Linked DNA regions of Homo sapiens: all the other regions are linked to region 1. The links come from fine-mapping of genetic effects on gene expression. A gene starts in region 1. Each other region holds a variant in brackets. All regions are shown on one strand. Distances are between the middles of the regions.

Region 1 (8,262 bases):
CCCTGACCCGTCAGCCAAGGCACAGGCCCCAGGATGAGCTGGGCTCACACCTGGTACCTGCAGTCTCAGAGCCAACCACACTAGGACTTTGGGGCATGGTTCAGGAAGGAGGAAGCCACAGGCTCCCAGCAACCAGAGCTCCCAGCCCATCCTGTACTCCAGGGAACTACCCGCCTGGATGCACCGCCCAGATGTCAGTGTTCAAGGTAGCTGGGACAGGTGGTGGGCACACTCCCAAGAGCTGCCTAGAGTCTTCACACAAGATCCCAAATAGACCGATTCCCAAAGGCCCAAGGCCATGTTACCCAAGTTAAATCTCTTTAATATCCCAATACAAAGTACTGATGCAAAAAGACAATGAGAAAACCCAGGAAGTTGGGGGGTGGGGGGTGGGGAGAGGTTTTATAAATAAAAAACCCCGAGCAGCTTTTCAGAGGCAGAGGAGCTAAGAGAAGCAGCAGTCCAAAGTGAGGAAGGGAGTGTGTGGCTCCTGGGACCTGCCCCTTGTCCCCTCACTCACAGCTGCTCGTAAACACCCCTTTCAAAAGGGGCTGCACCCTTTGGATATCTGCTTCTTTCTCTTGGTCCCTGGGACGCAACTAGCTCTGGCTTCAATCCCCTACAAAAATTCCTGAGATCTCGGGGACCCCAGCCAGCCCTTCCCCTGCAGTACCCCTTGGTGGGGAGGGCTGGGGAGCCGGTGAGAGTTCATAGCGTATCCAGGAGCATAGGTCAGGAGCACAGGGGAGCCTCTGAGTCCCCTGCCCGCTCCAAAAGCACACAAAGGGGAAGGCTGCCGTAGAGCTTGGGGTCCGTGAGGGGCTGGAGCAGAAGCAGGAAGAGTCCCACACCCAGGGCATAGCCTGCCAGCAGGGGCCGCCTCTGTGGGTGCTCCAAGGCCGCGCAAACAGCTGGGAAACCCATGTAATTGCAGAAGGAATGGCAGAGAACCGGCCCAATCAGGTGTCCTGGGGAAAAGAGACAGCAGCTCAGGGAGCAGCCCTACCACCTCCTCTGGCCCTTCCAGGGCTAGTGACCCTCATCCCCTGAAACAGGAGATCAAGATCCCACTACCCCAGCCATCCACCCACACACCACGGCCTCTGCTCCTTTCCACCTCTCAGACCTCACCAGGCTGAGGGCTCTGGCTCAGCCTGTCTCAAGGACTGGAGTAGAAGAACTTTTGTTCCTAGAACAAACAGTATTCCCATTCTCCCACCCGCTCCTGTGGGCCCCCAGGGACCCATGAGGGACTGAGGACCAACCTGTGCGGATGAAGAGGAAAGCAGTGTAGGCACCGAAGACAGCTGTGTAGGAGAACTGGAACGCTGGAGACGGGGAGGCCACGAGTGACCACACCTGCACGCCCTTCCTGCCCCCACACTACATACCCATCAGCCAAAGACCGACCATCCCCTCCCCCCGGGGCAGTAGCTGCCTGCCCCACCACCTACAGCTGTCCTGCACCCCAACTTCCCACGGTCAGTGGCCTCTCCAATACTGTGGCCCTCAGTTCCCAATTCCTTCTCCAGAGTGGCCATTAGCGACATCATCATACACCCTAACCCAGGCCAGCTAGCCAGGACTCACCAGCAGACAAGAAGATGTTCCCCACGCTGCTCTGGCGGAAACGCAGCTGCTCAATAATATGGTGAAAATGGGCTGGGAAAAAGGTGACAATCACATCACAGTCATTCCTCCCAGCCTCCCTTCTAGGACTGCCCCTCACCTCAAGCCCCCTTCTGAGCTCTCATGCTGAAAACACACCAGGACTAATCTGGCCAGACTCACCAACTCCAAAAAAGAGCGGGCAGGTGAACACAGCAGGGCCCAGGCCCATGCACGGTGCTAACATGGGCAGCATACAGGCCCGGAACACCAGCTCCTCTGTCAGCGGGGCGATCACTTGGTTCCGCAGCCAACGCATGTCTGTGAGGCAGCGGGCCCAGGAGCGGGGGGCTGCAGAGGGAATTCAGGACAAGCTGTGAGTGACGGGCTGTCAGACAGTGAGACCCCAGAGGCTCCAAGGGCTCCTCTCCCACAACTTTACCCTGGCCAAACTCAGGTTAGGCATCAATACTGCTGAGGACGGGGGTGTGGACCCAACATAAACCCAATGTCTTGAGATGACCTGAATGGAAGGCATTAGCTGAGGCAAGGGCATCCTGGAAGTAAACTCTGGAGACACCAAAATTTAAGCAAGACTAGCTCTGGTTGGGGAAGCAGGGGACAGTGCTCTCTGATCCACACCAAATACTGCTGGGGGTTCCCAGGGAACTCCTTGGACGTTGGCAATCAACCCTTAGAGGCCACCTAGCTCTATGTTTCCATTTTACTGATGAGAAAACACACCCAGAGAGATGACATTTCACGTGTCCAGATCACACCCTGAGCCCGCTGACTCCCTGCCCCAATGTCCTGGACTGCCTGTGCCTACTTTTCCCTTCAGCCTTTAAGACTCACCCAGGACAACCTTCAGCCCATCTGCCAGGTCACAAGGGCAATCCATAGAGAGCTGCATCAGTGGGCCCAGGAAAAGAATCTGAGGGCAAGAAAACACTTTCACCATAACCCACCGCTTTTGCCCAGACCTTTGCCCATGCTCCCTGAGACTCCAAGCTTGAAATCCTCTCCAGCCACGATTTCCAGACCATGCATACCGGAGGACCCTGGGGCCATCTCAAAAGTCCTGTCTCCCATCAACCAAAAACCAAAAACAAGAGTCCACGGCACTGCCCATCAGGCTGATAACAAAGACCAGAAGAAAAAATACAGCAGGAGCACTCACCATGGTCAGCAACAGGGGCAGCAGCGCCGCTGGGAAAATGCCCTCCAGCCTGAAGCCCATCAGGGTGAGCAGGGATGTGCCTGGCTGAGCCACAGGAAAGGGGGCATCAGTTTTGCTTCCTCCCCTAAAGACCCCTGAGCTCTCACCGCCGTTGCCCTTTGCCCCGCCTCCTTCGCACCTGGATGCCTGTGAGTTCCCTCCAGAGCAGCACGCACAGGGGTGAGAGACTGGACACCACCAGGACGCTGGTGAAGCGTCGCTTGATGACCGCGGGATGGTCCCTACGGAGGGGACAGTAAGTTCAGGGGGCCCGCGGCTGCCCATGAGCACGGACCCGCCCCCGGCTCGCCCAAGCTCCGCCCGCAGGGCGCGGATTCCGGTCGCGCGCAGCCCCCGCACCTGGGCAGTTCGCTCTTCCAGACGTAGAGGCTGCCCACGTAGGAGCAGGCGAGGCTGAGGCAGGAGAACACTGACACCCAGCAGCACAGCCCGGGGCCCAGGCCGCCCAGCGCCGCCGACTCGGGCGGCCGCTCCGGCCGCGACACCGACAGCAGTCGCAGCCCATCCCCGCCCAGCGCCGCCATTGCGCCCTGACCCGCGGCGCGCACCAGTGACGCAGTCCCAGGGAGGTGTGGGTGACGTCAGGCCGCGGCGCGGCTCCACGCCCCGCCCCGCCCCGCCCGGGCCCGACGCGGAAGCAGACGCGGAAGAGGACTTGGTGAGCGCGCGGCAGCTTTATTAAACCACGGGATAACGGCTGCCCGCAGCCTCCGGATCGGTGGGCGCTTGCGGAAGGGGACCCGGCTCAGGGCCCAGGGCTGGGACTCAGCCACTCTGACAGGTTGGAGACCTCCTGCAGCCACAGCACGTCCTGCGGGAACAAGGGGGCCCGGGGTGAGGACCTCTCAGCAGCGGCCCGTGGCCTGCACCTCCTGCTGAGCCCTTCCCTGCGCGGCCCTCGCCCAGTTACCTCCAGGCGGCTTCCGAGGCTCGCCCTGCCCGGCGCCAGGGCCCTGCCGTGAGCCTCGCGGTGCTCCCTTCCTCTAGGAGTGAGGGGGGCCGCGGTGGCTTCCGGGCGGCGCGGGGCGGCCTCTGACGGGCTCGGGGCCCTGGCAGAGCGCAGAGCTCGCATCTCCTCTATGCGGGGGCTGCCCCTCTTGAGCCTCTTGTTTTCTGCTTGCCCGCTGGTATCTAGGAGAAAAACAAGCCTCTTCATCTTACTTTCATGGCCCTGTGCTAGGAGCACCCTTGGCCAAGGGGAAGCCTGGGAGAACGGGCGCCGAGGGGCTCTTCCCACCGCATCCCTGTCAGCAGGTCCCATCCACACCAAAACCCTGCAGCTGTGGGCGCTTCTGGAGCAGCCCGAGGCTGCAGAGACGTTTCAGGGTCTCCCTATTCTCTCACCCAGGCGGGAGATTGTCCCGAGCCCTCACTTGGGGGACTCAGGCCGCTCAGTAACTTTCTGTATAGATTCTTCCTGGAGTCTGCACTGACAAGCTCCCCTCCCTGCCAGCCTCTGTCCCCCCTCACCTTTCTGGCCTCAGTTCTGTCTCCCTTTGTTGCTCACGTTGCATTGAGCAGTGCCCATAGGCAGCTTTCCTACTCTTAACTGATTCATTTGTCAAATTAAAGCGAGTTTAGATGGATAGATTCTTCCCCAGCAGGTCTTGGGGATGCAGATCAATGAGCTTTTCCCTGAGAGAAGCTCACAGATGCTAGGAGGGGATGCAGACCTGTGTACAAAGCCCAGGGTTAGAATAGAGAAGGAAGCCGACCACCTCTGGATGTGAAGAAGGGTTTCCATGAGGAGATACCTGAGCTGACCTTTTGTTTTTTTGAGACAAGGTCTTGCTCTGTTGCCCAGGCTGGAGTGCAGTGGCTCAGTCCTGGCTCACTGCAGCCTCGACCTCCTGGGCTCAAGCGATCCTACTGCCTCAGCTTCAGCTTCCAGAGTACCAGGAACCACAGGCGCATGCCACCACACCGGCTAATTTTTTTTACTTGTAGAGACAGGGGTCTCACCGTGTTGCCCAGGCTAGTCTCAAGCTGTCCTCCCGCCCCAGCTCCCCAAAGTGACGGTATTACAGGCATAAGTCACCACTCCTGCCCCAGAGCTGGGTTTTGAAGGATGAAGAGTGATATGCCAGACAAGGGAGAGAAAGGGAATTTCTTGCTGAAAGTTAACACAAACCTTATGCAAAGGCATAAAACAACTTCCTATGTAAATTTTTACTTTTTAAAGATGAGGTCTCGCCTGTCACCTAGGCTGGAGTGCAGTGGCGTGATTGTAGCTCACTGCAGCTTTGAACTCCCGGCCTCATCCTCTCGAGTAACTGGGACTAAAGGCACACACCACCTTGCCTGGCTAGAAACAGATTTTCATCTGTAGAAGACAGGAAGCCAATAAAGAGTTTTAAGCACTGGTGAAATATATTGGTAATTTTGTACTTCAGAAAGATCGTTCTTTCAAAGGTGTGGCTTAGATCAAACTAGAGACAGGAAGACCTTAAGAGCCCAATAACAAGTAAAGACAGTGGAGATAGAGGCGTCACCAGGAATCAGAAGTGTTCATCAGGCCTAAGTGATAGGCCTTTGTGAGCGCCTGGATGTGGGAGAGGCCTCTTGGCCGGGCGCGGTGGCTCATGCCTGTAATCCCAGCACTTTGGGGGGCCGAGGCGGGCAGATCACGAGGTCAGGAGATTGAGACCAGCTTGGCCAACATGGTGAAACCCCGTCTCTACTAAAAATACAAAAATTAGCTGGGCATGGTGGTGGGCGCCTGTAATCCCAACTACTCAGAGGCTGAGGCAAGAGAATCACTTGAACTTGGGAGGCAGGGAGGTTGCAGTGAGCCGAGATCACGCCACTGCACTCCAGTCTGGGCAACAGAGGGAGACTCTGTCTCAAAAAAAAAAAAAAAAAAAAAAAATGAGAGGCCTCTTGAATGAATCCAAGATTTCAGATGTGATAAATTGGATTAATCATGAAACAGACTAAAAGTCTCTTTAGTCAGGAGAGAGGAAACTGAGGTACCAATGGGACCTCCACGAGGAGCTGCCTAGTGAGCAAATGAATCTCCCAGCTGGCACTCAGCAGAGGCCTTGGCTGGTCATACCAATTTGAGAGTCTTGAGCCCAGAGGCAGTGGTCAACAGTTGGGATGGAAGATAGCTGGGTGGGAGAGCAGGATGAGCACTATTTAGGCATGACCAGAGGAAAGTAGATGAAGAGAAAAGCCCAGGGAGGGAAAAACCAGGCGAGTCATAGCCTTACAGTGCCAAATTTTGCACATAGTTCAGATACAATGAAGGTAAATGCAAAATTTGGTAATTAAGAGGCCTTCCCTGAGGAGAGAAGTTTCAGAGGCCACAGAAAAAGCAAGTACCCTAAGTGAGGGAGAGAATGAGAGGAAGAAAGGGAGACAGGGTGCATGCAGCTTGTGGTTTTGAGATCCTTGGCTGAGATGTGAGGGAGAGAGGTTGAGGATAAGTGGAGGAAGTTCAAGGTCACGGGAGATTTTCTTCTGATGAAATGAGAGCTTGACCTGCTGAGGGAAAGGAACTCAGGGGAAGGCTGAAGGTGCAGCAGTGATAACTGATGCAAGCAGGTCCCAAGAAAGCAGAAGGGACGATCCCACTGTGAGCCTGGAGGAAATGGGTCCCCACACTGATGAGGTTCTGCAGTGGGAGGGTGCAAGTTGGGTGAGTTTACTGAGAAAAGAGATCCGTAAGTATGAAGCAGGAGGCAGAGACTGGGTAGATTTTTTAAAGAATGGAGTAGCCACTGAGGGACAAAGGCCAGAAAGGCAGGGGGAAGGACTGACAAACCAAAGGCTCCTGAGTGAGTGGACCACCAATGGATGGTGGCATCAACACACAGTTTGGTGATTTTCTTCAGCAGGGCTGCCCATGTGAGGCGTAGAATGGATGCTGAGAGCCACAGGTCTGTAGGACAGAACAGCCCAAGCCATCCTCCAGGGGTTCCACCAGATTATAAACACCTAGATTTTAAAGCTCATGTTGCACACTGGAGAAAACATGGGCTTTGGAGGCGGCAAACTGAAAGTCATTACCTCCTGCTAAGCGTTCTGCCTCACCTGAGCCTGGGTCCTCTAGTTTGTTAGGATCCATGCCTCCCCCTGCCCCCAGAAGGGCACTGTAAAGACTAAATGAGATAAGGCTGTGGAAGACCCCAGCATCTCCCCAGGGTCCACAGAAGGTACTGAATTAAATGTTAATTTTTTTCCTTGTATGGGAAGATACTTATTCCTTTGTCTCTTCTGACTGCATAAATACTGAATTGTATGTATCATATTTGCATTTTTTAAAATCTCCAGATCTAAATTTATAAAAATAGATTCTTTGCTTTGTACAAGCGTTCACAGCAGGGTTCTTTTCAGTAGCAACAGCCCCCACAACATTTAAAACATGGTTCAGTTGACAGTGATTTCAGGGACACATCTTAGGCCTAAGCATAAACGCGTATGTGTTGTGGTTGTGACCCTAGAAAGAGGGATTTACCAACCAAGCATAGGTGCTGACGTCACGATCCCCAGCTTCCCTTGACCCAGATACTGTTTTATCTGAAGGACTCAGGATCTGTAGGAGGGCATCCCTGCTAATTCGGCTCTTCCAGAGACAGCAGAGCTAGGCTGCCTGGGTTTGAATTCTTGCTCTGTCATTTACTGGCTGTGTAGCCTTGGGTAAGTTTATTGATATCTGTGGGCCTCAATTTCCTCATATGCAAAATGAGAGTTAATAACAGTACCTATAGCTCCTAGGATAGTTTTGAGAACTAAGAGCATTAGTACATTTTAAAAGCTCAGAATAGTACCTGGCATCTCTGCTAGTGACTGAATGTGAGAGCTGCTGTACCCCTGCTGCTGTGGGCTGGGAAGGCTGTTTAAGCACTGCAGGAGACATGTATGGAGAAAAGACTTCAGTATAATTGCAATCACAACCCACGCACTGACACTTTCCCATAACACACATTAAGAGTGACATGGTGCCAGGCCGGGCGCGGTGGCTCACGCCTGTAATCCCAGCACTTTGGGAGGCCAAGGCAGGCGGATCACAAGGTCAGGAGATCGAGACCATCCTGGCTAACACGGTGAAACCCCGTCTCTACTAAAAATACAAAAATTTAGCCGGGCGTGATGGCGGGCGCCTGTGGTCCCAGCTACTCGGGAGGCTGAGGCAGGAGAATGGTGTGAACCCGGGAGGCGGAGCTTGCAGTGAGCCGAGATGGCGCCACTGCACTCCAGCCTGGGCGACAGAGGTGAGACTCTGTCTCAAAAAAATAAAAATAAAATAAAATTCAGGGCCCTGAATCTGCGTATTACCTACCCCCACCCCATCATGTGCAGCTATCTGTAACTGCACAGACTTTAATACAAATTTCTAGTCCTGTCCTAACATCTTGGGGAGGGAAGACCTGCTGCTGCCTTGAAGACCCACAGTGGCAGCAACAGCCCAC
Region 2 (8,227 bases), 130 kb after region 1:
GTGCCCTCCTCCGCCGCCCCGCAGGGCCTGGCCCTGCCCCCGCCGGCCACACTCCGCCTCTCTCCCCTCCCCAACACTGTCCAACCTGTTTGTCTGGAGCCGCCTGTCTCCTCTCACCGCAGCCAGGCGTGCCCCCACTCTCTGTCTCAGGAGTTCGGGACACCCCGTAACTCTTTTTGCCACTCCTTGAAATTCCCACCATTCTTGAATCCCCTGACGCTGGACTCCAGCCTGAGGTTCCACTGGGGAACAGAAACTGGCCCCCTGCCAGCGGGGAGCATGGACTCTGGGCCCTGGGCTCTGTAACTAGCAGCTGGCAGCATGAATGGGAACGGAGTGAGCAGGGTGCACGGGAACGGCCTGCATGAGGCCAGCGAGTTTTACTATGAGGCTGTGGAAGGGGCCCACAACCCCGGGGGCCTCCTGCTTTCACCAGCTGCTTTCATCAACCCTGCTCAGTATGCCAGCGTGCTGGAAGGACGCTTCAAACAGCTGCAAGGTGAGGCCCGGGGGCCCCCTGTGGGGACGACTGTGCCTGGGCGAGAGGGACCTGGGTGTGGGGAGAGTGGCCGGAGCTGAGGACCTGGCACAGGACACAGTGTGACTCCAGTGTTTGTGTTGGGAGACAACGTGATGCAGCTTAGAGGGGATAATTACAAGAGGCCGGAAAATACACAGATGTCAACGGAATGGGGAAAGGCTTGGACCTGCTGGCAGGGACCGTGTATGATGGCATGGGTGGGTGTGACTGCCGGGCCTTGGGGTGCTGCATGGAGCAAAGGCAACTAGCCATGGAGGGCGTGGGGGTGCCAGCACCTGGGGAGGCGCCAGCAGTGCCTCTGAGGTGGATCCGGATCTGGCGGTGGAGCGCTGGCCAGGACAGTTAGGGGAGGCGGAGGGGTGAGCCAGGCCCAGGGACCTGGAGATTGTGTTTTCCAGGCCTCTGAGCGTGTGTCTGAATGTGTACACGGGGGCAGTGTGTGTGGAAGCAAAGGGAGTGTCTCGAAGGAGAGGATCTGTGCAAACAGGCCCAGGTAGATGTCTGCGCAGGTGTGTGTTCACTCTGGCACAAGTGCTTAGGTGTGTTTTTGGGAATCACTGTTGTGTGTGTGTGTGTAAGGATCTAGGGATGCTGTGGGCGTCTTGTGACGTGACACTTGGTTTCTGGTGCTTGGCTTTGCCCATTTTCCTCCTAGTTGCCACTAATTCTGTGTCTTCTGACTGTGTGCCAAAATGGCCTCACCCCAGGGTGCCCAGCAGTAGGGCAGTGCCCCTGGATCCAGCAATGGCCTGTGACCCACGCTCCTCCTGGCTCAGATGGGGCCTGTAGACCTGCCGGGAGGCCCCAAGGCACCTTGGTTTCATGGGTGCTGGGGAGCATGGGGCCGTCCCATGTTATTAGGACCCCAGGTTTGGTGCCAGTATAGTGGCTGGAGGTGAAAGACACGGAGCGACGTGGGTGTGTTGCTGTGTCTTATGGGTGAGGTGCTTAGGAATGTGAGATTAAGGGATGAGTCTTTCCGGTTTCTGAGATGCTGGTGCTGAGACGGAAGCAAAAGTGACTCTTCAGACCCCAGCCACTTGGGTTGGGTCCTTGCACAGGGCTCTCTGTGGGAAAGTGGCAGAAATCCTCATCACCAGAGCAGTTTCTGATGCTTTCACTTTGTCACTTAGAACGTTCTTAATTTTTATTTTCCTACGGAACCTAGTATTTACTTCCCCTCTTCAGTAGCTCCCCTCCCCTGTGGGCTGGGCAGCAGGGCATTGCCTAACTTTTTTTTGAGATTGGTACCTAACTCTGCCTGGCTTTTTTTCCCCCATGTTTCCTGGCCTCACTGTTTTCCCAGTTCCCAACTCTCAACATCTTGTTCTTCTAAGCAATGGGGTGTTTATGTCCTGGAACTGGATCCCCTTGCAGCCAGCTGAATGTACTGTCCCCAACCCCCAGAAGCAGAGGAGCCTGCCTTTTCTTTAAGTTATCCAAGGACAGTAAGCTGACTCAGGAGGCCTGCAGCCTCTATACCATCAAGTCCTAATGACCGCTTGGAAGAGCCGCTGCAATAATTTTAGCCCACACCTTCTCCTTTGTCTGCAACCAAAAGAGAACAGCCATACCTCCCACCGGCCTGGGCAGCTCTTGCTCTCCTTCGGGCCAGATCACACCACTTTATAACAGCAGCTCACCAAGGAGCCATTTTGTGCCAGGCACCAACTAGTTGTTTTATATACCTTATCTCATTTAATCAACACAATGACCTGTTGAAGTAGAAAGTGATGTTCCCATTTTACAGATGAGACATTGGGGCTCTGATGAATGAAGTCACTTGACCAGCATTCCACTGCTTCCACGACTGCCCCATCCCAGCCCCTCCCTGCATGTCCCATGGTTTCTGAGGATGAAAGGTCTTCATCCTTTCTTCTCAAAGCCTATTTTCTTTTCTTTTCTTTTCTTTTTTTTTTTTGAGACGGAGTCTTGCTCTGTCGCCCAGGCTGGAGTGCAGTGGCACAATCTCGGCTCCCTGCAAGCTCCCCCTCCCAGGTTCACGTCAGTCTGCCTCAGCCTCCCGAGTAGCTGGGACTACAGGCGCCCGCCACTATGCCCGGCTAATTTTTTGTAATTTTAGTAGAGACGGGGTTTCACCGTGTTAGCCAGGATGGTCTCGATCTCCTGACCTTGTGATCCGCCCGCCTTGGCTTCCCAAAGTGCTGGGATTACAGGCATGAGCCACCACACCCAACCTTCGCCTATTTTCTGTCTTTCATCTTTCTTCTTTACCTTGCTTATGAGCTCATTGCAAGTTACGGGCTTTCCTCCCGGTCATCTTCCTTCCCTTCCTCCTCCTTAGAGGACCCCGCTTCCCATCTCTCAGGCTTCTCCATCCCCCACCCCTGCCAACTGGTGTTTAGAAGCAGGCATACTGAACTCGAGGGACAGAAATAAACCCATGTTGCCACCACAGATGAACGAGAAGCTGTGCAGAAGAAAACCTTCACCAAGTGGGTAAACTCGCACCTGGCCCGGGTCACGTGCCGGGTGGGGGACCTGTACAGCGACCTCCGGGACGGACGCAACCTGCTGAGGCTCCTCGAGGTGCTCTCGGGAGAGATACTGGTGAGCTGTGGTCATGAAGGGAAGTGGGGGGGCCTTAGAAAAGTGTCCAAGGGGACCAGCTGGAAGAACAGCCCTCAGAGAGAGTGACGGCACAGGGCGGGAAGCAGTGGCTCCCTCTGCTCAGAGGATGGGTTCATTTCAAGTGCCTTTGCCACTTAGATTACATAGGAGCATTGCTTCATGGAGACAGGAACAGTGGCCCCATTGAAAACATTTCTTTTCCCACCTACTCTGGGTGCAATTAATTCCCTTGGGAATCTTAATCTGCCCAAGCCTCATCTGTAAGCTCAGCTTTGGCTCCAGCCCTGGGGCTGTGCCTGTCTGTGTTCCTGAGGTAGGTCATGGGGAAGGTGTGCAAAGCTGGGCCCTGTGAAGGCTGGGGAAGAAGGTGGAAGCCCACAGTCCCGTGCCATTTTGCCCCCGTCCCTCCACAGCCAAAGCCTACAAAGGGCCGCATGCGGATCCACTGCCTGGAGAACGTGGACAAGGCACTGCAGTTCCTCAAGGAGCAGAAAGTGCACTTGGAAAACATGGGCTCCCATGACATTGTGGACGGAAACCACCGACTGACCCTTGGGCTGGTCTGGACCATCATCCTTCGATTCCAGGTACCCCAGCACACTGTCACACAGGGTGTGGTTCCTGCCCTGGCTCTGCACCGCAAGCCGTTCCTGCTGGCCCATGACACAACAAACACAAAGATGGAGGATCTAGAACCTTATGTAGCAGCTGCCATGGCGGCGCTATCCAAGCACCAGATCAGTGGACTCCCCTCTTTCAGCAGGGTAGAAACCAGCTTGGGTGAATGTCACACCCCTGTGGCAAATTCCCTGTGTTCTGGTCTGTGTGTTGGTCGTGTGCAATGGGACCAGGACCACAGGTTGGTCCACAGGAGACTGGAAGTTTTACCAACTGGTCCTTCACCACAGGGATTTGGGAACTTCTAGAGGGTCTGGTCACTGGCACCAATTCCCTGCCATAAACTCTGCCTGCCTCCCCCAATGGAACAGTCACCCTCCTCCTCCTCATGCCCCAGTGTCCTCATGCCATCACAGCGTTCCTGATCACCCCCTTCCTTCCCGGGTTCTGTCGGCTTCACCTTGGAGAGCCAGCTTTTAGAGACCTTGGAGAGCCAGCTCTCAGAAAATGTTCACTCTTCTGCCTGCAGTTCCCCACCTGGAGGGACCAGCACCCTCCACTCAGACACACCCATTCTTCAGCATCCTACCCTAATCTGCTGCCTCAAATCCCTTGCACCCAGTGTTTTGTGGTCCCTGGCCTAGGTTGAAAGGACCTCAGGCTATGCCTGTCCACCCCATTACCACAGTCTAAAGAGCAGTTTCCTGCCATTTATCTGAGCATCTCTGATAACACCAGGAGTTCCTGTCCAGGGACTGAGGGCCCTGCTTGCTTCCTTCCTAGATCCAAGACATCAGTGTGGAGACAGAAGACAACAAGGAGAAGAAGTCAGCCAAGGATGCCCTGCTTCTGTGGTGCCAGATGAAGACTGCAGGGTGAGGACACCCTGGGCGTGTGGCACTGGAGGGTCAGTGACCCCCAGGCTGTGCTGGGCTCCAGGAACCATGAGCTGGTGACTGCCCTGGAGTCATAGAACAGAGCTCAGCCCTACTCACCATTTTCTGAATCTCTGTTTATAGTTATCCCAA[C/T]GTCAATGTACACAACTTCACCACCAGCTGGAGAGATGGACTAGCTTTCAACGCCATCGTGCATAAACACCGGTGAGAAGATGGGGTTAGCAAACGCAGCAGAGCTGCTGGGTCGGCTAATGACCTGGGGTGCACATGTGGAGACAGAGATGAGATGAGCTGCACAGCAGTCAGACGGAAGGAATAGCACTCGGAGCAGAACCAGAACATGGGGGTGCAGGGCTGCGCAGAGCACTTGTGATGGGAAGCAGGGGAGGTGGTGTGGGGAGGGGCTGTGAGCAGCAGTGTGGGTTTGGGATGCCTACTTCTGGACAAAATTGGGTCGGTGACTTAGGGATAAAGATTGGTGTGGGTTTCCTCTTCCTCTTCGAGATCTCACATGTTTCTGATCCCTTCTGTCTTGCCTCCCCACCCAGGCCAGACCTGCTGGATTTTGAGTCTCTGAAGAAGTGTAATGCACACTATAATCTGCAGAATGCATTCAATCTGGCTGAAAAGGAACTGGGACTTACCAAGCTGCTGGATCCCGAAGGTGGGGCCAGAGCTATGTGAAAAAGAGGTGGTAGGGTAGAGACAGGAGGTGGACCAGTGGTTGCCAGGGGCTGCGGAGGGGGAAGACATGGAGTAACCACCAACTGATACAGGGGCTTCTTTGGTGGGGGAAGAGAATGTTCTGGAATTAGAAAGTGGTGATGGTTACACAACCTTGTAAATATACTGAAAAACACGTGGTTGCTCACACCCAGCACTTTGGGAGGCCAAGGCAGGAGGATCACTTGAGCCTAGGAGTTTGGTACCAGCCTGGGCAACATAGTGAGACCCCATGACTACCCCTCCCCCCCAAAAAAAATATATATCTTTACACTGAAAACCACTGAATTATATACATTGAAAGGTTGAATTTTATGGTGTGACAATCATTTCTCAGGTTTTTTTTTTTTTTAACAAAAGACTGTAGGTAGGAAGAAAGGCAGCCCAGTGACAGAAAGAGCCCTGGACTGTGGGTTGTGTCCCAGGCAGAGCACAGAGGAGCTCTGTGACATACAGCCAGTGGCTAGCCTCTCTGTGGCTCAGTTTCCTCATGTCTTAAAAGAGAGAATTGGTCTCTAAGGGCTCTTCTGAAATTCTAGGATTCTAAATTAAGCTACATGTTGCTGGCCACGGTGGTACCTGCCTATAGTCCTAGCTGCTAGTGAGGCTGAGGCGAGAGGATCACTTGAGCCCAGGAGTTCTAGGCTGCAGTGGGTTATGCTGATTGGATATCTACACTAAATTCAGCACTGGTGACCTCCTGGGAGCAGGGGACCAGCAGGTTACCTAAGGAGGACTGAACCAGTCCAGGTCAGAATGGAGCAGGTCAAAACTCCCACACTGATCAGTAGTGGGATCACACCTGTCAATAGCCACAGTACTCCAGCTTGGGCAACAGCGAGACCCATCTCTATTTTTTTAAAACAAATTTTTAAGAAAAAAAATTAAGCTGCATGACCTTCCACTCTCACCCAGAACTGGCCTGTAGTCAGCTGACCTTGCTGATTGGTTCCTGTGGTTCTGGTCATAATGCCGATGAGATCGATGAGATCAGTAACAGCCACTGGGCTCTTTTTTTTTTTTTTGAGACGGAGTCTCACTCTGTTGCCCAGACTGGAGTGCAATGGCGCGATCTCGGCTCACTGCAACCTCCGCCTCCTGGGTTCAAGCAATTCTCCTGCCTCAGCCTCTTGAGTAGCTGAGATTACAGGCGCATCCCACCACGCCCGGCTAATTTTTGTATTTTTAGTAGAGACAGGGTTTCACCATGTTGGTCAGGCTGGTCTCTAACTCCTGACCTCGTGGTCCGCCCACCTCGGCCTCCCAATGCGCTGTGATAACAGGTGTGAGCCCCCGCGCCTGACTGCGATTAGGCTCTTATTTGATACCTGGTTCTGCACTTGATGTGTTTTAATCTTCACAACACCCCTTTGAAATCAGTACTGTTGTTATCCTCAGTTTATGGAAGAGAAGATGGGGGCCTATAATGGGTAAGCAACTTGCCCAGGTCCTCCGGCAGATGGAGCTGAGATTGGCGTTCAGGCAGCCTGGCTCCAGAGCCTGTTTCCTCCGCTGCCTCTGGGAAAGTGGAGACCAATCTTGGTGCAACCAGAACAGGGAGGAGAGAAAGGCTCGCCTGCTGGAGGTGCTCCTTAAGTTCACTGGGTGGATGTTCACTGGTCTTGGCCATTTTCTCCCTGTTTTCCATTCTACCTGTAGCCCTATCACCTGGGCCTTTTTACTGCAGAATGACAAGTGTCAGCGAGCTAGCAACAGACATAGGCTTCATGCAGTGCTCCTTGGAGAGCCTCTGGGTAGCATGGCTGTAATTCAGAACCTGGAAATAAAGCTAAGCATTCTGTAACTTTCCGAGATGACTTCAGTGGCTCCTGCCTGCCCATGTATTTCCAGAAATAGGCAAGAGGCTTCTGGTCTCATAGTCTTACCTTTAGGATAAAATCTGGCCTATTTAAAAGAACCCACAGATTTCAAGTTATGGTCAGCCTCAGTTGTGCGCTGGAAGCCAATTCGGCTTGAAAGACACTCCCCTCCTTGGGCCCACAGCTGAGCTTTAGGATTGAGGTTAGAAACGGCGTGATCACACCTGGAGATGGTGCTGAGAGCTGGCCTCTGTCCCCACTGAGCTGCAGGGATCACAGGGCCCATCGATCTGAGCATCCTAGGTTCAGGAGGCTTAGTTCATACCTTCCGTCCCACTGCCCCTCAATCCATTGACTTCTTAAACATTATTCTAGCCTAAAAGTCCATGATCCATCCCCACATAGCAATGCTGTTTCTTTTCTTGCTTTTCTTCCCCAAACAACTGATTTTGGTCTCCACGGGGAACTCTGGGTAAAAGCTTCCTTGTGCTTCTGGGGTTTGTGCTCTGCTTGGAGGGCCCTTCTTGTTTCCAGGAGAAGGGGAAAAAAAGATGAGCTTTTTGGTGCCCTTTTCATTTGAATGGGTAAGTTGTCATTTTGCTCTAAAAGGAGATGGAGAGATGTCAGCCTTGGAGGACTGGGCAGGCCCAGGGTTTGGGGTAAGTGATGCAAGTTATGGATGAACTTCTGGGAGGCCTGACCCAAATGGTCCTCTCTTGCAGACGTGAATGTGGACCAGCCAGATGAGAAGTCAATCATTACCTATGTGGCTACTTACTACCATTACTTCTCCAAGATGAAGGCCCTGGCCGTGGAAGGCAAGAGAATTGGCAAGGTACTGTCCATGGGCAGTAGGCATAAAGGCCAGAGGAGGCCCGGCTGAGGGGTCTTACTGCCCTAGTGCAAGGGCAGGGTGGAGCTGCAGGACTGGGCCAGGGACCCTGTGGCTGGGACTGTCACGTCCCTGTCTTCTGCCTCCCAGGTGCTGGACCATGCCATGGAGGCAGAGCGCCTGGTGGAGAAATACGAGTCCCTGG
Region 3 (8,000 bases), 190 kb after region 1:
TGGCTCACGCCTGTAATCCCAGCACTTTGGGAGGCTGAGGCAGGCAAATGGCTAGAGCTCAGGAGTTCAAGACCAGCCTGGGCAACATGGCAAAACCACAACTACAAAATACAGAAATTAGTTGGGCATGCTGGCATGCGCCAGTGGTCCCAGCTACTCGGGAGGCTGAGGTGAGAGAATTGCTTGAGCCCGGGAGGAGGTGGAGGTTGAACACGGCACTCCAGCCTGGGTGACATAGGAAGACCCTGTCTCAAAAAAAAGGTGGGGGAGGGGGCAGGCGAGGTGGCTCATGCCTATAATTTTTTTTTTTTTTTTTTTTTTTTTTGAGATGGAATCTTGCTCTGTCGCCCAGGCTAGAGTGCAGTGGCGCTATCTCATCTCACTGCACCCTCCACCTCCCGGGTTCAAGTGATTCTTCTGCCTCAGCCTCCCAAGTAGCTGGGACTACAGGTGCGCACCACGACAACTGGCTAATATTTTACATTTTTAGTAGAGACGGGGTTTCATCATGTCGGCCAGGCTGCTCTCGAGCTCCTGACCTCAAGTGATCCACCCCCTCGGCCTCCCAAAGTGCCGGGATTACAGGTGTGAGCCACCGCGCCCGGCCTAATCTTAGTAGTCTGGAAGGCTGAGACAAGAGTATAGCTTGAGCCAGGAGTTCCTAACCAGCCTGGGCAACATAGGGAGACCCCATCTCTACCAAAAGATAAAAATAAAAAATAAATTAGCCAGGTGCAATGGTGCATACCTCTGTAGTTCCAGCTACTTGGAAGGTTGAGATGGGAAGACCGCTTCAGCTCAGAAGGTTGAGGCTGCATTGAGCCATACTCATACCACTGTACTCCAGCCTAGGCAACAGAGCAAGACCGCACCTAAAAAAAAAAAAAAAAAAAAAAAAAGACTAAAAAATTGATCAGGGGCTGAGGATTAACTACAAAGGGGCACAAGGGCTTTTTGGCTGACAAAAATGTTCTGTATTTTGATTGCAACAATGGGAACAAGATTGTAACCATCAGTTACCAAAATTACCAGTACATTGTCAAACTGGGCATGGTGGCTCACGACTGTGCCTATAATCCCAGCACTTTGGGCGGCCAAGGTGGTGGATCACCTAAGGTCAGGAGTTCAAGACCAGCCTGGCCAACATGGTGAAACTCCGTCTCTGCTAAAAATATAAAAATTAGCTGGACATGGTGGCATGCATCTATAATCCCAGTTACTCAAAAGGCTGAGGCACAAAAATCGCTTGAACCCGGGAGGTGGAGATTGCAGTGAACCGAGATCATGTCACTGCACTCCAGCCTGGGCAATAGAGTGAGACACCATCTTTTTAAAAAACAAAACAAAAGGCCCCCCAAAAAAGTACATTGTCACAATGTGTCAAATTGTTTTCAAAATTGGTATATTTTATTGTTTGAAAATAATACTTCAGGCCGGGCATAGTGGCTCATGCCTGTAACCTCAGCATTTTGGGAGGCCAAGGTGAGCAGATCAACTGAGGCTGGGAGTTCGAGACCAGTCTGACTGACATGGAGAATCCCCGTCTCTACTAAAAAAATAGAAAATTAGGCCAGGCACGGTGGCTCACACCTGTAATCCCAGCACTTTGGGAGGCCGAGGCGGGTGGATCACAAGGTCATGAGATCGAGACCATCCTGGCCAACACAGTGAAACCCTGTCTCTACTAAAAATACAAAAACAAAATTAGCCAGGCGTGGTGGCAGGTGCCTGTAGTCCCAGCTACTTCAGAGGCTGAGGTGGGAGAATGGCGTGAACCCAGGAGGTAGAGCTTGCAGTGAGCTGAGATTGTGCCACTGCACTCCAGCCTGGGTGACAGAGCGAGACTCCGCCTAAAAAAAAAAATACAAAATTAGCCGGGCATGGTGGCGGGCACCTGTAATCCCAGCTACTCAGGAGGCTGAGGAAGGAGAATCACTCGAACCCGCGAGGCGGAGGTTGTGGTGAGCTGAGATTGCACCATTGCACTCCAGCCTGGGCAACAAAAGCAAAACTCCATCTAAAAAAAAAAAGAATACTTCAGGGCCGTCTCTTCCTGGTTCTTCCCAGAGTCAGGAAAAACTGGGTTGAAAGGGTGTTTAAAAAAAAAACTCAGAAAAGCTGATTTTTTAAAAAAGTAATCACATTATGACACTGCTTAAAAACCTACAAGACTAGTTGACTCAGAGTGAAGGCCAGAAAGGCCCTAGAAGATTAACTACTAGATCTGCTAACTACCTGACCTCTTCTGCTCCTCTCTCCTCCCACTCACTCTTTTGCCACTGGCCTCCTTACTGTTAGAACACTCCCACCTTAAGACCCTTGCTCAAGATATTCTCTCTACCTGGCGTACTTTTCCCCCAGATACCTGTTGCTAACTTACATCTAATTCAACTCATTGCTCAAATCTCACTTTTTTAAAAGAGGCCCAGGCCGGGTGCAATGGCTCATTCCTATAATCCCAGCACTTTGGGAGGCCGAGGTGAGAATCGCTTGAGCCCAGGAGTTCAAGAGCACCGTAGGCAACATAGCGAAACCCTGTATCTACAAGAAATACGAGTGGGATGTAGTGGCATGCCTGTAGTCTCAGCTACTCGGGAGGCTGGGGTAGGAGGACCAACTGAGACTGGGAGGTGGAGGTTGCAGTGAGCCAAGATCACCCCACTGCACTGCAGTCTGGGTGACAGAGTGAGACCCTGTCTCAAAAAAAAAAAAAGAAAAGAAGTGCCGAGTGCAGTGGCTCATGCCTGTAATCTCAACACTTTGGGAGGCCAAAGCGGGTGGATCACCTGAAGTCAGGAGTTCGAAACCAGCAGGGCCAACATGGTGAAACACCATCCCTACTAAAAATACAAAAATTAGCCAGGCGTGGTGGTGCATGCCTGTAATCCCAGCTACTGAGGATGCTGAGGCAGGAGAATCGCTTGAACCTAGGAGGCAGAGGTTGCAGTGAGCCGAGATCATGCCACTGCACTCCAGCCTGGGCAACAAGAGCAAAACTCCATCTCAAAAAAAAAATTTAGCTGGGCGTGGTGGTATGCGCCTGTAATCCTAGCTACTCAGGAGGCTGAGGGAGAAGAATCACTTGAACCTGGGAGGCGGACGTTGTAGTGAGCCGAAATGGCGCCACTGGACTCCAGCCTGGGCGACGTAGGGAGACTCCATCTCAAAAAATAAAAAGAAATTATCTGTAGGCTGGGCACAGTGGCTCACACCTGTAATCCCACCACTTTGG[T/G]AGGCTGAGGCAGGATGATCACTTAAGCGCAGGAGTTCAAGACTAGGCTGGGCAAAATGGGAAAACCTTGCCTCTAAAAAAAAAAAAAAAACAAAATTAATCAAAACTGAGCTGGGCGTGGTGGTGCGTGCCTGTAGTCCCAGCTACCCAGGAGGCTGAGGCGAGAGGATAGCTTCAGCCTGGGAGATCAAGATTGCAGTCAGACATGTTTGCACCACAGCACTCCAGCCTAGAGGACAAAGTGAGACCTTGTCTCAAAAATAAAAAAAATTTTTTTTTTGAGATGGAGTCTCACTCTGTCACCCAGGCCGGACTGCAGTGGCACTATCTCGACTCGCTGCAAGCTCTGCCTCCCGGGTTCACGCCATTCTCCTGTCTCAGCCTCCCGAATAGCTGGGACTACAGGCGCCCGCCACCACGCCCAGCTAATTTTTTTTTTTGTATTTTTAGTAGAGACAGGGTTTCACCATGTTAGCCAGGATGGTCTCGATTTCCTGACCTCATGATCCGCCCGCCTCAGCCTCCCAAAGTGCTGGGATTACAGGTGTGAGCCACCACGCCCGGCCAAAAATAAAATTCTTCTAATAGTAGGATTTGGTGGCATATGCCTGTAGTCCTAAGTACTTGGGAGGCTGAGACGGGAGGATCATTTGGGCCTGCGAGCTACGGCTGCAGTGAGATAGATAACACCATGGCACTCTAGCCTGGATGACAGAGCAAGACCTTGTCTCTAAAATAAGTAATATTTTTAGAGAGGGTCTTGCTGTTGTCCATGCTGGACTTGAACTCCTGGGCTGCTCAAGCGATCCTTGCACCTCGGCCTTCCAAGTACCTGAGACTACAGGTGCATGCCATTGTGCCCTGCTTATTTTTTGCCTTTTTAATTGAGGCATATATTCAAAGTGTGAGTCCCTATCCTGGGCGACAGAGCAGGACTCTGTCTCAGAAAAAAAAAAGAAAAAAAAAAAGAGAAAAAAGAAAACCCATGTATAATTTTTGACTTCCCAAAACTTAGTAGCCTGCTGTTGACTGGAAGCCTTACAGGTCATATGTCAATTAACATATTTTGTGTGTTATATGTATACTGTATTCTTACAATAAAAGCTAAAGAAAAGGTTGGGCGCGGTGGGTCACACCTGTAATCCCAACACTTTGGGAGGCCAAGGCAGGTGGATCACCTGAGGTCAAGAGTTCGAGAACAGCCTCACCAATATGGTGAAACCCTGTCTCTACTAAAAATACAAAAGTAAGCTGGGCGTGGTGGCATGTGCCTATAGTCCCAGCTACTCGGAAGGCTGAGACAGGAGATTTGCTTGGACCCAAGAAGCAGAGGTTGCAGTGAGCCGAGATCGCATCACTGCACTCCAGCCTGGGTGACAAAGCAAGACTCCCTCTCAAAAAAAAAAAAAAAAATCATTAAGTAGAAGTGAATCATCATAAAGGTGTTCATCCTGATAGTATTCATGTTGAGTAGGCTGAGGAAAAGTAGGAGGAGGGGTTGGTCTGGCTGTCTCAGGGGCGGCAGAGGCAGAAGAAAATCCATGTATTAGTGAACCTGCACAGTTCAAACCCTTGTTGTTCAATGGTCAACTGTACAAAGGAAGCCCCAAACTCAGTTTGGTGTCAATCTTCCTTACGTTGTGAAACTGAGAAGTCCCATCTTGTTGCATATCTGAATACAAACAATTCTGATGTTGGACAGAGGAACTCAAACCAGCAGGCACACACAACCCTCAATGGAACCACCAGCTCCCAGTGGACAGAGTACTCAGCCTCCCTGTTAGTTGTGACAACTTAAGACAAAAATGAGAGCAGTAATACAATGCTCAATTCACTCATCACTAGCTACGTACTTTCTCCTTTGGTGTCTTGTCTCCTTAAGGGACAGGAAGCACCATCCCTGTTTTGGTGGGGGTGCGGGTGGGGTTGTATGTTTCAGACAGGTCAGGTCTCACTAGGTTGGCCAGGCTGGCCTTGGAACTCCTGTGCTCAATCTTTGCACCTCAGCCTCTGTAGTAGCTGAGACTACGACATGCGCCACCACGCCCGAAACCAACCCAATTTTGTATCTGAAGGGTGCTATTTACCTGCCATAAAGTAACACGAGTCCCTATTCCTGTCAGATTTGCATCTCATGAGAAGCTGGAAGGTTCACTCATGTTAAGCCATCATAATCTGGCTTGACAAAATAGAGTTCTTAGCATGACACAACTTAATAATGCAAGAACATGGTTTAACAAAGCAAATATTAAGGCTTCAAAAAGTCCCCTGGCCCCACCTTCCCCAGAACCCAACTGCTTTTGCCATTTTAGCTGTTTTTTACCTTTATTTCTGAATAAGATGTTCATAATCCATTTGCCACTTTTAAAAATTTCCTCATTTCAGCCAGGTGTGGTGGCTCACGCCTGTAATCCCAGCGCTTTGGGAGGCCAAGGCAGGCGGATCAAGAGGTCAGGAGATCGAGACCATCCTGGTTAACACGGTGAAACCCCGTCTCTACTAAAAATACAAAAAAATTAGCCGGGCGTGGTGGAGGGTGCCTGTAGTCCCAGCTACTTGGGAGGCTGAGGCAGGAGAATGGTGTGAACCCGGGAGGCAGAGGTTGCAGTGAGCCGAGACTGCACCACTGCGCTCCAGCCTGGGTGACCAAAAAAAAAAAATTTTTTCATTTCTATGAGTTTTGCTCTTATACGTATTACCCACCCATCGCCACTTCATCAGATTATTATTTTAATATTCAGAGCTGCTACGATCATAACTAGGTAAATATCACACACAGTTGAATCTTGCTATAGTTTTGAGTGTTTATGTCCCCCCAAAATTCATGTTAAAATCTGAATCCCCATAGTGAAAGTATTAGGTACACTTTTGAGAGGTGATTATGCCATAGAACAGAGCCCTCATCAATGGGATTTGTGCCCTTATATAAAAGAAACTCCAGAGAAATCCCTCACCCTTCCTGCCTTGCAAACTCAAGACAGAATCCAGACACCACGTCTGCCACGGCCTTGATCTCAGCTTTCCCAGCCTCCGAAACTGTGAGAAATAAAATTCTGTTGTGTATAAGCCATCCAGTCTTACGGTCTTTTGTTACAGCACCTCAAACGGACTAAAAAAATCCTCCTGTTGGCGGGGCATGGTGGCTCACGCCTGTAATCCCAGCACTTTGGGAGGCCGAGGCAGGCGGATCAAGAGGTCAGGAGATCGAGACCATCCTGGCTAACACGGTGAAACCCTGTCTCTACTAAAAATACAAAAAAATTAGCCAGGTGTGGTGGCGGGCGCCTGTAGTCCCAGTTACTCTGGATGGTGAGGCAGGAGAATGGCGTGAACCCGGGAGGTGGAGCATGCAGTGAGCCGAGATAGTGCCACTGCACTCCAACCTGGGTGACAGAGCAAGACTCCGCCTCAAAAAAAAAAAAAAAAGTACTTTCTCTTGCTACAACCTGGACTACTGTTCTCCAAATCCACTGCAGAAAGGGAGTCCTGGGACTTCCCATCACCATCATCCTGGGAATTTCCTTTACCTCAGAATGAGATCATGTGTAAGAACACACAAGTACTGAGAGCAAACTGACCTGGGTAATTTGAAACAGCACTTAATACTAGTGCCAATGATCAATGATCTCACTCTCACTACTCCATCCCCCCCCGAGTCTACTTTAGTACTGATGTGTAGCTCTAGGGTAAGGAGCCTGGTTTAATTTAGCATTCACCCAAAACAACCCCAATTTTGAGGATGCCTGGGAAACTTTTGAGACAGGATCCCACTGTCACCCAGGATGGAGTCCAGTGATGCCATCTCTGCTCACTGCAACATCCGCCCCTGGCATCAAGCAATCCTCCCATCTCAGCCTCCTGAGTAGCATGACCGGCTCATTTTTAAATTTATTATTATTATTTTACTTATTTTGAGACGGAGTCTAGCTCTGTTGCCCCGGCTGGAGTGCAGTGGCGCAATCTCAGCTCACTGCAAGCTCCACCTCCCGGGTTCATGCCATTCTCCTGCCTCAGCCTCCCAAGTAGCTGGGACTACAGGTGCCCACCACCACGCCCGGCTAACTTTTTATATTTTTAGTAGAGATGGAGTTTCACCTTGTTAGCCAGGATGGTCTTGATCTCCTGACCTCGTGATCCGCCCACCTCGGCCTCCCAAAGCGCTGGGAATACAGGCGTGGGCCACCGCGCCTGGCCTATTATTATTAAGACAGACTTTCACTCTCGTTGCCCAGGCTGGAGTTCAATGGCGCAATCTCAGCTCACTGCAACCTCCTCCTCCCAGCTTCAAGCAATTCTTCTGCCTCAGCCTCCCAAGCAGATGGGATTACAGGTGCCCACCACCATGCCCGGCTAATTTTTTGTGTTTTTAGTAGAGATGGGGTTTCCCCATGTTTGACAGGCTGGTCTTGAACTCCCGACCTCAGGTGATCTGCCTGCCTTGGCCTCCCAAAGTGCTGGGATTACAGGCGTTGAGCCACCACGCCTGGCTGGAAAACTTTAAAGGCAAAGTTAACAGGGTTAACATCAAGTTAAATTCCAAGATCACCCTGAAAACTGCCCTCACAGGTCCTTTGACCCATGCAGAATCAGGCCGAGGCACATGTCATCAATACAAAATAGTATGACCATTCCCACCCCGAACTGACTTCCAAGGACATACCAGTTATTTGTACACCCAAGGCCCAGACAAGCAGCAGCTTGTGGAGGCACAGTGAGGACAGGCACAATGCCCTATTCATCTTTGTATTCGCCACATGGTAACCTAATT

Alleles and levels. Positions count from the first base shown, and alleles are read on the strand shown. Sizes are in standard deviations (SD) of each study's normalised expression. Not every link is listed here.
As copies of G replace T in region 3, the expression in cerebral cortex of the gene that starts at base 3,387 in region 1 goes up (small effect, 0.35 SD a copy in GTEx).

Evidence for each region. PIP is the estimated chance that this variant, and not a neighbour inherited with it, causes the effect.
Region 2: its variant is the best candidate, but not a certain one, in a credible set for the expression of RCE1 in blood mononuclear cells (TOPMed, PIP 0.71).
Region 3: its variant is the best candidate, but not a certain one, in a credible set for the expression of RCE1 in cerebral cortex (GTEx, PIP 0.63).

The regions. Positions count from the first base shown.
Region 1 is chr11:66,838,566-66,846,827 of GRCh38, reverse strand. It overlaps RCE1 (Ras converting CAAX endopeptidase 1), which reads right to left and starts at 3,387. Exons shown (of 8, transcript NM_005133.3): 1 at 3,188-3,387; 2 at 2,967-3,069; 3 at 2,789-2,872; 4 at 2,464-2,542; 5 at 1,792-1,959; 6 at 1,591-1,662; 7 at 1,266-1,328; 8 at 276-968. The coding sequence starts at 3,372. The coding sequence ends at 733. TOP6BL (TOP6B like initiator of meiotic double strand breaks) reads right to left here. Exons shown (of 15, transcript NM_001302084.2): 14 at 3,759-3,979; 15 at 3,312-3,659. The coding sequence ends at 3,594. RefSeq lists an enhancer at 2,810-3,516 and silencers at 3,157-3,596, 3,707-3,846, 5,064-5,190.
Region 2 is chr11:66,710,715-66,718,941 of GRCh38, reverse strand. It overlaps SPTBN2 (spectrin beta, non-erythrocytic 2), which reads left to right. Exons shown (of 38, transcript NM_006946.4): 4 at 2,961-3,112; 5 at 3,547-3,720; 6 at 4,535-4,626; 7 at 4,771-4,851; 8 at 5,196-5,311; 9 at 7,913-8,025; 10 at 8,173-8,227. It also overlaps the pseudogene RN7SL12P. Among named protein-coding and RNA genes, the nearest start is that of SPTBN2, 14 kb to the left of the region's middle. The variant C/T (reference allele first, on the strand shown) is at 4,780.
Region 3 is chr11:66,650,008-66,658,007 of GRCh38, reverse strand. It overlaps a transcript of RBM4 not described here. Among named protein-coding and RNA genes, the nearest start is that of RBM4, 15 kb to the right of the region's middle. The variant T/G (reference allele first, on the strand shown) is at 3,233.